Homo sapiens: one gene and its partners. The protein of the gene in region 2 purifies or fractionates together with the protein of the main gene of each other region. This does not show direct contact. Each region holds a gene or a part of one and is shown on either strand. Other genes may lie near its edges.

What was found. Proteins that work in one complex are often made in the same cells at the same time.
Region 1: the proteins of ODAD1 (region 2) and EXOC7 purify together in Homo sapiens (affinity purification with mass spectrometry; one large-scale study listed by BioGRID and IntAct). This does not show direct contact.
Region 3: the proteins of ODAD1 (region 2) and PDCD7 purify together in Homo sapiens (affinity purification with mass spectrometry; one large-scale study listed by BioGRID and IntAct). This does not show direct contact.
Region 4: the proteins of ODAD1 (region 2) and PCNT purify together in Homo sapiens (affinity purification with mass spectrometry; one large-scale study listed by BioGRID and IntAct). This does not show direct contact.

What each region holds. Positions count from the first base shown.
Region 1 is NC_000017.11:76,090,288-76,093,787, reverse strand, and holds part of EXOC7 (exocyst complex component 7), read left to right. Parts: intron 1-2,552; coding exon 2,553-2,645; intron 2,646-3,306; coding exon of another isoform or gene 3,307-3,459; intron 3,460-3,500. UniProt on the Homo sapiens protein: Component of the exocyst complex involved in the docking of exocytic vesicles with fusion sites on the plasma membrane.
Region 2 is NC_000019.10:48,311,972-48,315,471, forward strand, and holds part of ODAD1 (outer dynein arm-docking complex subunit 1), read right to left. Parts: intron 146-3,500; coding exon 23-145; intron 1-22. UniProt on the Homo sapiens protein: Component of the outer dynein arm-docking complex (ODA-DC) that mediates outer dynein arms (ODA) binding onto the doublet microtubule. Involved in mediating assembly of both ODAs and their axonemal docking complex onto ciliary microtubules.
Region 3 is NC_000015.10:65,123,809-65,127,308, forward strand, and holds part of PDCD7 (programmed cell death protein 7), read right to left. Parts: intron 1-3,500. UniProt on the Homo sapiens protein: Promotes apoptosis when overexpressed.
Region 4 is NC_000021.9:46,414,656-46,418,155, reverse strand, and holds part of PCNT (pericentrin), read right to left. Parts: intron 2,088-3,500; coding exon 1,317-2,087; intron 1-1,316. UniProt on the Homo sapiens protein: Integral component of the filamentous matrix of the centrosome involved in the initial establishment of organized microtubule arrays in both mitosis and meiosis. Plays a role, together with DISC1, in the microtubule network formation.

The DNA of each region.
Region 1 (3,500 bases), on a different chromosome or scaffold from region 2:
TTCTCCCCGGCATCATATCCCTTATAGTCTGTGCTCCAGGTAAACAGTGTCTCTGCCAGCCACAGCTTGGCAAGCCCGGCTATGTCTGGCCACTGAGAGATGCTGCCCGCAGCTCGATGATGTGCTGGGATGTTCTGGGGTGGGGCTGCTGAGATTGCACTGAAAAAGAAAGCTGGAGAAGCCGGGGCTGCTCCCACCCAGGCTGGCCCCCTGTCCAGCTGCTGCTGTGGGCACATGCCCTAGTTGTGGCCTGTGGCACCTGCTTATGACAACAAGCTTTGGGTAGAGCTTACTTACACCCTTGGTTTCTCCAGTCCCTGCCTGCTCATGCCCCTCAGAGAGTGAGGTGTCTGTTCCACAAGAGCACCCGCTCCCCTGCAGGCCTTTGTTTAGGGTTTGGAGAAACAGGCAGAGCAGGGGCTGCCCTCAGGGAGTAGAGCATTAGGGAGCTGGTGCCTGGGGCCTTCTCCCTCCAGTGTGGAAATCCTGCCCACCAGCCAAAACCTGCTGCAAATGGGGACTGCCAGCCCAGCCTGTGGGCGCAGCTGCCTGCACAGTGGATGGAGCAGCTCTGTGCCTTCTGTGTGGTGGGGAGTGGCTGTCTCTATGAGGCTGCTAGGATGCTTGGGCCCCAGCCAGTCTGTGCTTGCTTCCTCTTCTGCCTGGCTCCCTGACAGGTCCCCCAGAAGCCCCAGAGCCCTATTTGCACTGCCTTAAGAGTGCCCGCTGGCCATGCAGCTACCTGGCCTTTCAGGCAGGAGGGATCTGATCTCAGGTGGCTCACAGTGGACCACATCCATCCTTGGGCCAGAGACACTAGAGGAAAACTCCAGCTGTGGGGTTTCAGAGTTGTCAGGAACTGGTGGGCTCAGGACCGATGTCAGGCTCTAGGGAGTCAGGCTCTGGGGATGTCGGTTCCCACTTCTGAGGAGAGGGACAGGGAGGCCTCCCAGGTGGTGAAGCACCGACCTCAGCATCCCTGGAGGCAATTGGGAGCCTGACGGGTTTGGCGGCTGCTAGATCCACATCGGCGACCCACATCCTGCCGGCGTGCACCTGCGTCTGTGTCTGCTCCTGGTGGGTTGTGGGGCAGGAATCAGATTCACTCATTAGTAAGCCGCACTCGCTGAAGGGGAGAGCATGAGCAAGGGAGACGTGAGCCAGGCCTTGGTTATTAGGAGCTAATTATGGGCCAAGTATGGTGGCTCACGCCTGTAATCCTAGCACTTCGGGAGGCCGAGGCGGGCGGATCACCTGAGGTCAGGAGTTCGAGACCAGCCTGGCCAACATGGTGAAACCCTGTCTCTACTAAAAATAGAAAAAAAATTAGTTGGGTGTGGTGACGCACGCCTATAATCCCAGCTACCTGGGAGGCTGAGGCAGGAGAATCACTTGAACCCAGGAGGCAGAGGTTGCAGTGAGCCGAGGTCGTGCCACCGTACTCCAGCCTGGGCGACAGAGTGAGACTGTCTCAAAAAAAAAAAAAAAAAAAAAAACAAGCTAATTGTGGTGTTGTGCGGTGCGGTGCGGTGCAGGTGTAAGCAGTGAGCCTCCAGACACTGCCCCTTTCTCCCTCAGCTTTCTGGGGAGCTGCCAGGACACAGCAGCCTCACTGTGCTCAGATAGACTGTGGGGGTGGGAGGCATCCCGGGTGCCTTTCTGCCCCTATACATTTTGTTAACAAGGCAGCTGCACTTGTCTGCTTGAGATGCGAGTTGATTTCCCGACGTCTTCTGGCCCGAGATGTCTCATTCCCACAAAGGAGGCTGACCCAGGCGGCTGTGGGTGCTGCCATTTTGTTCTCATTGTTTTCACTTGTGATACTAACTATTGTTTTTCTCCCCCATGCCAAGAGCATGTGCCCTCTCCTTCCGTGCACACCCTCCAGGCGCTCTGTGTGGTGGCTTCTGTTAACCCCTTCTTGACTTTTGGATTTTTTCTTGTCGCTTTGGTGGTTTGGGGAACTCTGGTGTGGGGCTAGGCTGCCTCTGGGTCTCTGAGCCGTCCGCCTTGGGCACAGCGCTCCCCCGGAAGTTCAGTCAGGGTGGCTTCCTGCTGGCTGCTGTTTGGCGTACGTCCCAACACTGAGCATGCTCGGAGAACTCTGCCTGGAGTTTGGGGCTGGGCTGGGGGCCTGCTGGCTTCAGGGTGCCCCCCAGGCTCTCCCACCCTGGTTGTGCCCTCTGGGTATGCGAGCTTTGTCACGGGCTCCTCCGACCTGAGCCCTCGCCTGTTCTGATTATGATGCCACTCCATATTTTTGACTTCTCCTGGTGGATCTTGGTCCATCTTCATTACCCTCTGTCCTTTCAGAAATGAGCTGAAATCCAGAACAAGGAGGGTCGGTAGTAGAATCAAGGCTCCATTTGGAGAAGGAAATGACTCCTTTCCTTCATCCTTGTCCCCAGCGTCTCTGGTGGTCTCAGGGAAAGGCCTGCTCACTGTTGGGGAGCTGGGTGCGGGGCCTGGGGGGCAGGTGGAGGGCCGCTGCTGTTTTCTCTCACTCATTTCCTAGGTCTTCTTATCTCCTCTCTGTGTGGCTCTGGTGACAGGGACGATCCGTAAGGCTCAGAACCTTCTGAAACAGTATTCCCAGCATGGTCTAGATGGGAAAAAGGGGGGCTCTAACCTCATTCCTCTGGAAGGTAATCACCCTGTGTTCCCCTCCTGTCCCTTCCTCCTCCACTGTGTGTCCACGCACTTGGCAGGGCAGAGCCTCCCCCAGGAGGGCCTCGGGAGAAACCCTGAGGGGAGCAGGGTGGGAACGGCAGGTCCCCGATGCCACTCGGGCTTCAGCGGGCACAGGGACAGTTTCGCAGCCCTCGGCCTGGTCCTCTCTGGCTGATGGCAGCTCTGCCCTCCCTGAGGCTTCCCTCCTCCCTTCCCTGTCTCTGTCCTTGTCTCCTGTGTGAACTCAGAAAAAGTTATTTGTCTTGGGGCAGCCCTTTCACGCTCAGACCAGCAGTGGCAGGCCCCAGCTGGCCGAGGCCTCCCGGCCTTCCCATCTTTAGAAAGGGGAGTGTGTGCAGCAGAGGACAGGCAAACTGGGGCTTTCCCCAAATACAGCGAGGTGGGGAACCCCCCTGGGGCCAAGCATCAGCTCTTCAGCCCCTCCTTGGTCCTTCTCCGCTTTCCCTGGGCCTCCAGGCTCGGGGAAATGAGCAGCTAAGGACGGTCCTGGGTGCTCACTGAAGTCAGGCTTGAAACGGCTGTTCCCAAGGTGGCTTGAGGTAGAGGAGGGGCTCAGGGCCCTCTCCGATGCCCCCTTCCCCATCCCCATCTGACGTCCCCCTCCTGGAGATGAAGGGCTTCTTCCCTGTACCCCAAGGGGCGGCCTGCCTGGCCCCTGGATAAACGCTGCTTGTGTTTGTGCGGCCGACATCTCGCCAGGTCACGAGCATGATTTCCGAGTTAAGCACCTGTCCGAGGCCTTGAACGACAAGCACGGGCCGCTGGCCGGTGAGTACCGCAGCCCAGCCCGAGGGCAGCCGCTGACACTG
Region 2 (3,500 bases):
GGACCAGGAGTTTGACCCTCACCCTGTCCAACTGGTTTTCTAGGATCCTGATCCTTCGCCTGATCTTGACCTTCTGATCCAGGATGAATCCCGGGGACCTGACATTCTTACTGTGGGTAAAGATCCGCGTCTCCCACTCCTGGATCTACAAGAAAGAGGATGGTACCTGTTTTTGGTTGCCTGAATGTGGGAGAGATTGAATGGCCCAGGGAAAATGAGTCACTAAGCATGGCAAACATCTGCTGTCCCTGTCACCCCAGAATAACATCTACCCTTCTGCTGACACTATCCAGCCCTCCATGTGGTTCTGGTGGGCCTTCCAACCACAGTGTATCACCCTATCAGCCACATGACCCAGGTCTGGACACTCACAGGGATTGGCCTAGAGATGGGAATGTGACCCCATGGAGCTAGCCTGACTCCTTTCCGTTTTTTTTTTTGTTTTTTTTTTTTTTTTTTTTGAGACAGAGTCTTGCTCTGTCTCCCAGGCTGGAGTGTGCAGTGGCGCGATCTTGGCTCACTGCAACCTCCACCTCCCAGGCTCGAGCAATTCTAGTGCCTCAACCTCCCGAGTAGCTGGGATTACAGGCACGTACCACCACACCCAGCTAATTTTTGTATTTTTAGTAGAGATGGGGTTTCACCATGTTGGCCAGGCTGATCTTGAACTCCTGACCTCAAGTGATCCACCCGCCTTGGCCTCCCAAAGTGCTGGGATTACAGGCAAGAGCCACTGCACCCGGCCCTGACTCCTTTCCTGATAGTCTGGGGGAAGCACATGAGATGGAAGGATGGGATTCCAGGACTTCTCCTGTCATGGCCCCACCACAGGGAGGGTCCTGGGAGAATGAGGCCAGTGGACAGAAGTGGAGATGAGAGTCGGAGAGACGGTGAGAATGAACTTGATGACATTAGTAGCCCTGGGTCTGCTTATGCCTAAGACCAGCTTCCAATCTGTCCTCATTTCTGTATTCATCTGTACTTATTGGGGTGTGCTCTGTCTCTCCCAGCAAACTGGGGGTTCCATGAGGACACAGAGTCTTGTGTTTTCTCCCTGTCCGAGACAAAGAAGGTATTCAACATAACATGCAGACTAAATAGATAAATGAATTGCTCAACACTTCAATTTGTGCTCTGTTATGGGTTGAATCATGTCCCATAAAAACTCATATGTTGGCCGGGCACGGTGGCTCACACCTGTAATCCCAGCACTCTGGGAGGCAGAGGTGGGTGAATCAGCTGAGGTCAGGAGTTCAAGACCACCCTGGCCAACATGGCGAAACCCCACCTCTACTAAAATACAAAAATTAGCAAGGCGTGGTGGCAGGCACCTGTAATCCCAGCTACTCGGGAGGCTGAGGCAGGAGAATTGCTTGAACCCAGGAGGAGAGGTTGCAGTGAGCTGAGATTGTGCCACTGCACTCCAGCCTGGGGAACAGAACAAGACTCCATCTCAAAAAAAAAAAAAAAAAAAACCAAAAAAAAACCTCACATGTTGAAGTCTTAACCCCCAGTACTTTAGAATGTGACCTTATTTGGAGACAGAGTCTTCATAGAAGTAATTAAAATGAGGTAATTAAGGTGGGCCCTAATCCACTACGACGAGGTGTTCTTAGAAAAATGGGAAATTGCTGGGTGTGGTGGCTCATGCCTGTAATCCCAATACTTTGGAAGGCTGAGGCAGGATGATCTCTCGAAGCCAGGAGTTCAAGACCAGCCTGGGCCACAAAGCAAGACCCCATCTCTACAAGATACAAAATAAATTAGCTGGGCATGGTGGTGCACACCTGTAGTCCTAGCTACTTGGGAAGCTGAGGTGGCAGATCCCTTGAGACAAGGAGCTCGAAGCTGCAGTGAGCTGTGATTGAGCCACTGTACTCCAGCCTGGGTGACAGAGGGAGATCCTGTCTCAAAACAAAACAAAACAAAAAAGGAAATTTGGACATAGATACGCACACAGGGAGAATGCCACGTAAGGATAAAGACAGAGGTCAGGTGTGGTGGCTCACGCCTGTAATCCCAACACTTTCGGAGGCTGAGATGGGTGGATAACTTGAGGTCAGGAGTTCGAGACCAGCCTGGCCAACATGGCGAAACCCCATCTCTACTAAACATACAAAAATTAGCCAGGTGTGGTGGCACATGCCTGTAATCCCAGCTACTTGGGAGGCTGAGGCAGGAGAATCGCTTGAACCCAGGGGGTGGAGGCTGCAGTGAGCTGAGAGATTGGGTGACATGTCTACAAGCCAAAGTACCCAAGACTGCCAGCAAACCGGCAGAAGCAGAGAGAGAGAGGCATGGAACAGACAGATTCTCCCCCACACTGCTCAGAAGGAACCAAACCTGCCTACATCTTGATCTTGGACTTCTGGCCTTTGGAACTATGAGAAAACATATTTTTGTTATACGAGCCACCCAATTTGTGGAACTTTGTCATAGCAGCCCTAACAAACTAATCCACGTACCAAAGATACCCCAGAAGGCTGCAGCAAACTTAAGACTCAGCATGAGGATGTTTTAAATTTTTGAGGAAGACCTTGATATTGGTCAGATACCACATGAACTGCTAGCTTAAGGCAGTTCACAAGTTCAACATGAGAGGGCGCTATCATCCTTTTGAAGATGTCACATCTTTGTGAGACTGGATTTTCAGCAGTTGCTGCAATAAAAGCCAAATACCCAATTGTTGGTGGGCGCAGTGTCTCACGCCTGTAATCCCAGCACTTTGAGAGGCCGAGGCGAGTGGATCACCTGAGGTCAGGAGTTTGAGACCAGCCTGGCCAAAATGGTGAAACCCCATCTCTACTAAAAATACAAAAATTAGCTGGGCGTAATGGCACGTGACTGTAATCCCAGCTACTCGGGTGGCTGAAGCACGAGAATCACTTGAGCCTGGCCTGGGAGGTGGAGGCTGCAATGAGCCGAGATTGCACCACTGCACTCCAGCCTGGGTGACTGAGCGAGACTCCACCTCAAAAAAGAAAAGAAAAAGAAATGTCCAAAATGTTGACACTGGGGGAAAATGCAGCAAAGTGTACAAGGGATGTCTCTGCATTATTTCTTTCAACTGCACATGAATCCCAACAAAATTTTCTTTCTTTCTTTTATTTTTTCTTTTTTTTAGAGACAGGGTCTCACTCTGTCACCCAGGCCGAGTGCAGTGGCACCATCATAGCTCACTGCAGCCTCCACCTCCCAGGCCAGGCTCAAGCAATCCTCCTGCCTCAGTAATTGCTTTATGAAAGAAGAGATGACATACGGTAAAACTGCACATATTTAGTGTTCAATGTGGGATGGGCACGGTGGCTCACGCCTGTAATCCCAGCACTTTGGGAGGCTGAGGTGGGCAGATCCCCTGAGGTCAGGAGTTCGAGACCAGCCTGGCCAACATGGCGAAACCCCGTCTCTACTAAAAATACAAAATTAGCCAGGCATCGTGGCAGGCACCCGTAGTCCCAACTACCCAGGAGGCTGAGGCAGAAGAGTTGCTTGAACCCAGG
Region 3 (3,500 bases), on a different chromosome or scaffold from region 2:
CCAGGCCAGTGTTTTTCAAGTATACACAAAATTCTTATACACTGACAAATTTAAGCTGTCACTCTGTTTTATAATAATCTAACGGTTTTGTTTCATTTCTTTACCTTTACAGGTAAATATTTTAGATTTTGTAAGCCATACAGTCTCTGTTGCAACTACTAAAATCTGTCTATGGCGAAATACACAGATACTCCATCATCCTATGTTAGCCTAAAGACCCCATGAAGAGATGTAGGCTGCTGAGCCTGGGCCACCAACCCACATCTCTCTCGGCCCCTCACTGATCACTCCCTGGTCAATGTAACATATTCCCTCAGAAATGGCACTCCTGGGGCGGGAGTGGTGGCTCACACCTGTAATCCCAACACTTTGGGAGGCTGAGGCGGGTAGATTACCTGAGGTCAGGAGTTTGAGACCAGCCTGACCAACGTGGTGAAACCCCATCTCTACTAAAAAAAATACAAAAATTAGCTGGGTGTGGTGGTGCATGCCTGTAATCTCAGCTACTCTGGAGGCTGAGGCAGGAGAATCGCTTGAACCTGGGAGGTGGAGGTTGCAGTGAGCCGAGATTGCACCACTGCACTCCAACAGGGGCAACAAGAGTGAAACTCCGTCTCAAAAAAAAAAAAGAAAGAAAGAAAGAAAAAGAAAAAGAAACAGCACTTCTCACACAGTCTTCCTCCTGGCACCATCTAGGTTCCCTCCACTTCTACCACTCACTGTCCACCTAGTCCTGCAGCTCCTAGACACCAATGCCTTTGCCTCTATTCCCCTTTAGCCACATGCCTGCAGTCCTGTTCAGTCTGTGGACCTTGGCATTATCAGAAAAAACTTTCTGCCTCTTAAATCTTAAACTTGATTATTCTCTTATCCAACTACAACTTTCTCCCTTATAGTACTTTTACTTCCTTCTCCCCAGAGACCCATTTGGCAGCTTCATCAAAACCTCCGGACCTGATGTATCAGATTCTATCCTTCTGCTACTCCTTCGCCACAAAACTAATGGTCACCCCACAAAGCAAAACCCCAACAGCCCCGTGCTCTGTGCTCACCTGTCAGCTACAGTACTACTGGAAGAGGTCATTTGATTGTGTCATCCATTGCCAATATATGTCAGCTGGACCCATAGCACCCCCTGCAACCATCTTCCACAAGTCTCTGTTGGCTCTCACCCATTCTTCACAGCAATTAAATCAAACCTTCACTGCTCTCCTAAAGCCCCACTTGTCTACTGGCGCTCAGCAAACCATTTACCCTGTTTCCCAGAGAAAACAGGCCAGCAGACAGGAAATCCCTCAAATATCTGTCCCCATTTACACACTCATGTGCATCACTACCTATCTTCATCTCCTTCATTTTCATGCTTGTGTAAGATGGGTCCTTCTTCACTTAAGTTAATCCCTCCACCTGGGATCTGAATCATCCTACCTTCCATGGGACCTTGAGCCATCAACTATTCTTCCTGCTTCTCTTTGACCCTTCCCCTTCTACTCACTCCTCTCAGCAATTTTAACCATGCTTAAGTTTTCCCCATGACCCAAAGACACACAACACCCCTCACCATCACCACTACCACACACCTTGCCAGATACTGATGTTGCTCTTTCCTTTTCTTCACAGGCAATCTTTTAATAAGTTGAATTATCTGTTTGCTTTTCTTGTATCATATTCATTCTCTAACCAACTGTAGTCTGGCTTCTACCCCCACCACTCCACTGAAATGCCCCTAGCATAGGTCACTAATGACCGGTTGGATACTAATTCCCATGGATGTTCCTTATTTCTTGATAATAAAAAGAATAATAATATGAAACATGTATATAGCATTTACTATGTGCCAGGACTGTTTTAAGTACTTTACACATATTTATTAATTTAATCCTCACGACACCCCATGGGTAGGTACTATCATTACTCCCTTTTTGCAGATGAGGAAACAAAGGTTCAGAGAAGCTCAAGTAACCTGTCCAAGTGTATTAATCTATTCTCACGCTGCCAATAAAGATATACCTGAAATTGGGTAATTTATAAAAGAGGTTTAATTGACTCACAGTTCTACATGGCTGGGGAGGCTTCACAATCATGGCGGAAGGTGAAGGAGGAGCAAAGTTATATCTTACATGGTGACAGGTAAAGAGGGCGTGTGCAAGGAAACTCTCCTTTATAAATCCATCAGATCTCATGAGACTTATGATCACAAGAACAGCATGTGAAAGACCTGTCCCCATGATTCAATTACCTCCCACCAAGTCCCTCCGACGACATGTGGGAATTATGGGAGCTACAATTCAAGATGAGATTTGGGTGGGGACACAGCCAAACCATATCACCAAGACTACACAATCTCTCTCTAAGCACTTGCCACTTTCCAGAAGGAAGCAGGGAGTCTATCTTTTCCTCCCATCTCTCTGACCTCTCTTGGTCTCTTTTTTGCTCTCTTCATCTTCTACCTTGATTTTGACATTCCCTATGATTTTGTCTTTTTGGCCCTCATCTCATGCTGTACAATCTCCTTAAGGTCATTCTGACTCATGGCTACATGCTAATGAACTCTTATCCAGGATGTACCACACACACCTCAAACTCGACAGGTCCCCAACTGAACTTGTCAACCCTAAACCTGTTCCTCCTCCCTTGTTTTCCTTCTTAATTAGAATGGTATCGGCCAGGCACAGTGGCTCACACCCTTAATCCTAGAACTTTGGGAGGCCAAGATGGGAGAATCGCTTGAGCCCAGGAGTTCGAGACCAGCTTGGGCAACATGGCGAAACTCTATCTCTACAAAAAATTTAAAAATTAGCCAGGTGTGGTGGTGTGCACCTGTAGTCTCTACTACTCAGGAGGCTGAGGTGGGAGGATCGCTCCTGCCTGGGAGTATAAGGCTGCAGTGAATTATGATTGCACCACTGCACTTCGGCTTGGGCGACAGTGCAAGACCCTGTCTTTTAAAAAAAAAAAAAGCAAAAAAAAAAAGCTATCTTCACTTATTCAGTAGATGAGGCTAGAATCTGGAAGACATTTCATTGTTTTTCCCTTTAGTTCCTGTACTCTGAGTTCCTTAAATTATTTATTTATATGTACATGGGTATATACACATATACCTTTATTCATTATCTCTCAATTCTTTGACTTGAGAATTATTCACTAATAATTCTGAATTACTCAATTATTCACTATCACTTGAATTACTCATTACCTCTCAATTCTCCTACACACTGACGTCACTCAGCTTATGCTTCCATACTACCCGTGCCCAATAGCCTTACCCATCTCTCTGCCCTTCTCTCTCTCTCCTGGATGCTCCAAAACTTTCTCTGCTCTACTGGCACTGATCTTTGCCATCATTTCACTTAAAAACTTTCAGCGGGGCCAGGCGTGGTGGCTCACGCCTGTAATCCCAGCACTTTGGGAGGCCGAGGCAGGTGGATCATGAGGTCAGGAGATCGAGACCATCCTGGCTAACAAGGTGAAACCCCGTCTCTACTAAAAATACAAAAAAT
Region 4 (3,500 bases), on a different chromosome or scaffold from region 2:
TAGCGCTGACTTTGCCAGGTGAAAACTTTCAAAGGCCTGAATTTATCTTCCCACATAGACCCCAGATGAAACAACTCAAAACTGGTGAACACACAGGTCGAATGCTTCCAACAATTTAATCAGATTCACCCACAGCTCTTTAGGAATATTTTAATGTAGCCAATAGTAAATATTTCAGATTTAAATTGTTTTGCATGAAATGATAGTATATGGATGTTTCAGATAATATGTATCTGCTAAATTATTATTTTTTGAGGGAGGGTCTCACTCTGTCACCCAGGCTGGAGTGCAGTGGTTCAATCTTGGCTCACTGCATCCTCAACCTCCCAAGGTCAAGTGATCCTCCTGCCTCAGCCTCCTGAAGAGCAGGGACCATGGGCGGCACCAGCACGCCCAGCTAATTTTTTGTGTTTTTTTTGTAGAGACAGGGTCTCACCGTGTTACCCAGCCTGGTCTCAAATTCCTGGGCTCAAGCAATCCTCCCGCCTCAGCCTCCCAAAGTGCTGAGACTACAAGCATGAGCCCAACCATACCTGATTTTTAATTTTATCTTACTCAAGATACACAAAATCCCAAAATGATTATGTTAGAAATAATACGATCTAACTCATAAATTAAAATTAATTAGCATATGTGAAACCTGTTAAAAATATGAAGCATTTCTGGCTGAGCATGGTGGCTCACGCCTGTAAGCCCAGCACTTTGGGAGGCTGAGGTGGGTGGATCATGAGGTCAGGAGTTCGAGACCAGCCTGACCAATAAGGTAAAACCCCGTCTCTACTAAACTACAAAAATTAGCCGGGTGTGGTGGCGTGTGCCTGTAGTCCCAGCTACTAGGGAGGCTGAGGCAGGAGATTTGCTTGAACCTGGGGAGGCGGAGGCTGCAGTGAGCCGAGATTGCGTCACTGCACTCTAGCCTGGGTGACAGAGCGAGACTCCATCTCACAAAAAAAAAAAAAAAAAAAAAAAAAGGAAGCATTCCTAAAAATAAATCTAAAAAACCATTCTGGACAAAGAACCCTATGCCCATCACACACGAAGACGTGTCTGGGCTATGCCCGTTGGAGTCAGCGTCAGTGGAGAAGCATGCCCAGGGTATGTCTGAGGCAGGCAAATGCATCTCAGGCATTTTAAAAATACCTGAACAACTGAAATAATCTAAATGCGCCCATGATGCCAGTCCTGCAGAGCTGGCCCCACACAGCACTGCGAGGTGTGTGCTGTCAGGAGGTGAACAAACAATGGCAGCTGCCGTGGCGCCGGGCAGACCACATTCCCACGGGAACAGCAGGCCTGGGAGCAGAGCAGGCACCTACCACAGCCGTCCTCTGCACATGGTGGTCGTCAGCCGGCGGAGACTCGGCCCACTGCAGTGCCAGCGCTGCTGCAGACACGCCTGGGGAACAAAGCAGCCCCGGCCCCTGGGTCTGTGGCAGCGAGGTGTCCGCCCTGTCCCCCAGGGATGTGTCGGCACTGCACAGGCTCAGGGCTCCTGAGTGGGGTGTCACGGGGAGGCTGGGCCAGGGCTCCAGGGTCCAGTCCTTCCTGAGGACCTCAGGGGAGCTCCAGGAAGACAGGTCCAGCATCCCGACCGGGCTCTTCCGGGGCCCAGCCTCTGCAGTGTGGCTCTGGTGGCGGGAGCCACCAAGTACGCTGGTCGGTGAAGAAAGAGACATGTCCTGACATTCTGATTTTTCTTGAATGGGAGAATCTGGCATTTCATCTGGTATCAAGGAATCCCAATTTTTGATAACATCAGTTACACCCCCTGGGGTTGTATTGGCATCACACGCGTCTATGGCCTGATTTTTGATAACATCAGTTACACCCCCCGTGGCTGTATTGGCATCACATGTGTCTATGTGGGGTGATATGTCAGGCTCTTCTCCGTCACAGGAATCATCACTCCAGCTGCTCTCCAACAGGTGTGCTGAGGCCATGGGCCACAGAGATTTGGTGTCGGCAGCATCCACATTCTGGAAGGTCATGGAATACAGCAAACGGTTCAGTTTTTCCTGAAGCTGTTTCACCTGAGCTACGAGATCGACCTTCGGCAGCTGACAATCTTCCAGTACTTTTTCTTTACCCTGCAGGTGAAACAGAACAGGTGCACGGTGGAATACCTGGCTCACCAGGAGTCGCACCTGTCTGGTGTTAATGAGTGGATTTCAGGGAGTTTCGGAGCACTCGGGTGATTCCACAATGAGCCCTGCACATTTCAAGTTTATTTAATTCTATGAGAAACAGAACCAAGGCTTACATCTCCTTGCTTAAAAGGCAACTGTCATAACCTATTTCTGCGGTGATTGAGGACACAAGCTTCATACAAGGGAAAAAGGATGGGAAGGTTCTATATCTGAGCACCGAAAACACAAAATTGTGGTTTATGTGATGAATTTGGAGTTTCTGTGTGTGTAACTTCTAAGAATTTGGCAGGCAGGGCTGAGCTTTCTCTTAAGAATTCAAAAAATTGGGCCGGGTGCAGTGGCTCACGCCTGTAATCCTAGCATTTTGGGAGGCTGAGACAGGTGGATCACGAGGTCAGGAGTTCGAGACCACCCTGGCCAAAATGGTGAAACCCTGTCTCTACTAAAAATACAAAAATTAGCCAGGCATGGTGGCGGGTGCCTGTAATCCTAGCTACTCGGGAGGCTGAGGCAGTGAATTGCTTGAACCCAGGAGGTGGAGGTTGCAGTGAGCCAAGATCTCAAGATCTCGCCACTGCACTCCAGCCTGGGCGACAGAGCGAGACTCTGTCTCAAAAAAAAAAAAAAAAAAAAAAAAAAAAAATTCAAAGAAACGTTCCTGTCATGAGGGCCCCAAGACTGTTTGCCGCAGGAGATGCGAAGGGCTCTCCACACAGGATGTATTTCCCGAGAGCACATGACAAGCACACGAACCAGGTTCATGGGTCTCCTCAGAACTGCGGGCCTAGGCCCATCCTTCCCTGATTTCTGTGGAATTAAGAATCTTTCAGGCTCTAAACGCCAATGAGGTGCACGCAGTGTGGACCCAGGAACAGGCGGCACCTGCACTCATGCAAGAAACGTCCCAGCGACGTGCGGGACACTCACGAGGGCTGCGAGGGGCTCGGGTGAGCCCAGGTCTCAGCAGGCTTCAGCACCAAGCATGCTTCCGTGCCACCCTAGAGACCATAAAACACCTGCCCAGCACTTCTGGTGTTAGAGCCTCTGGGTTTCAGAGCCTGGAGGAGTAGTTGGGGCACATTTAGCAAACAGCAGGGAGGAGGGGGAGGAGGAAGAGCAGGGTGGGTGGCTGTGTGTCCAGCAGGAGGAGGGTAGGTGTCTGTGTGTCCAGGAGGAGGAGGAGCAGGGTGGGCGGCTGCATGTCCAGGAGGAGGAGAGTGGGCGGCTGTGTGTCCAGGAGGAGGGTGGGCGGCTGCGTGTCCAGGAGGAGGAGGGTGGGCAGCTGTGTGTCCAGGAGGAGGAGTGTGGGCAGCTGTGTGTCCAGGAGGAGGAGGAGGAGCAGGGTGGGTGGCT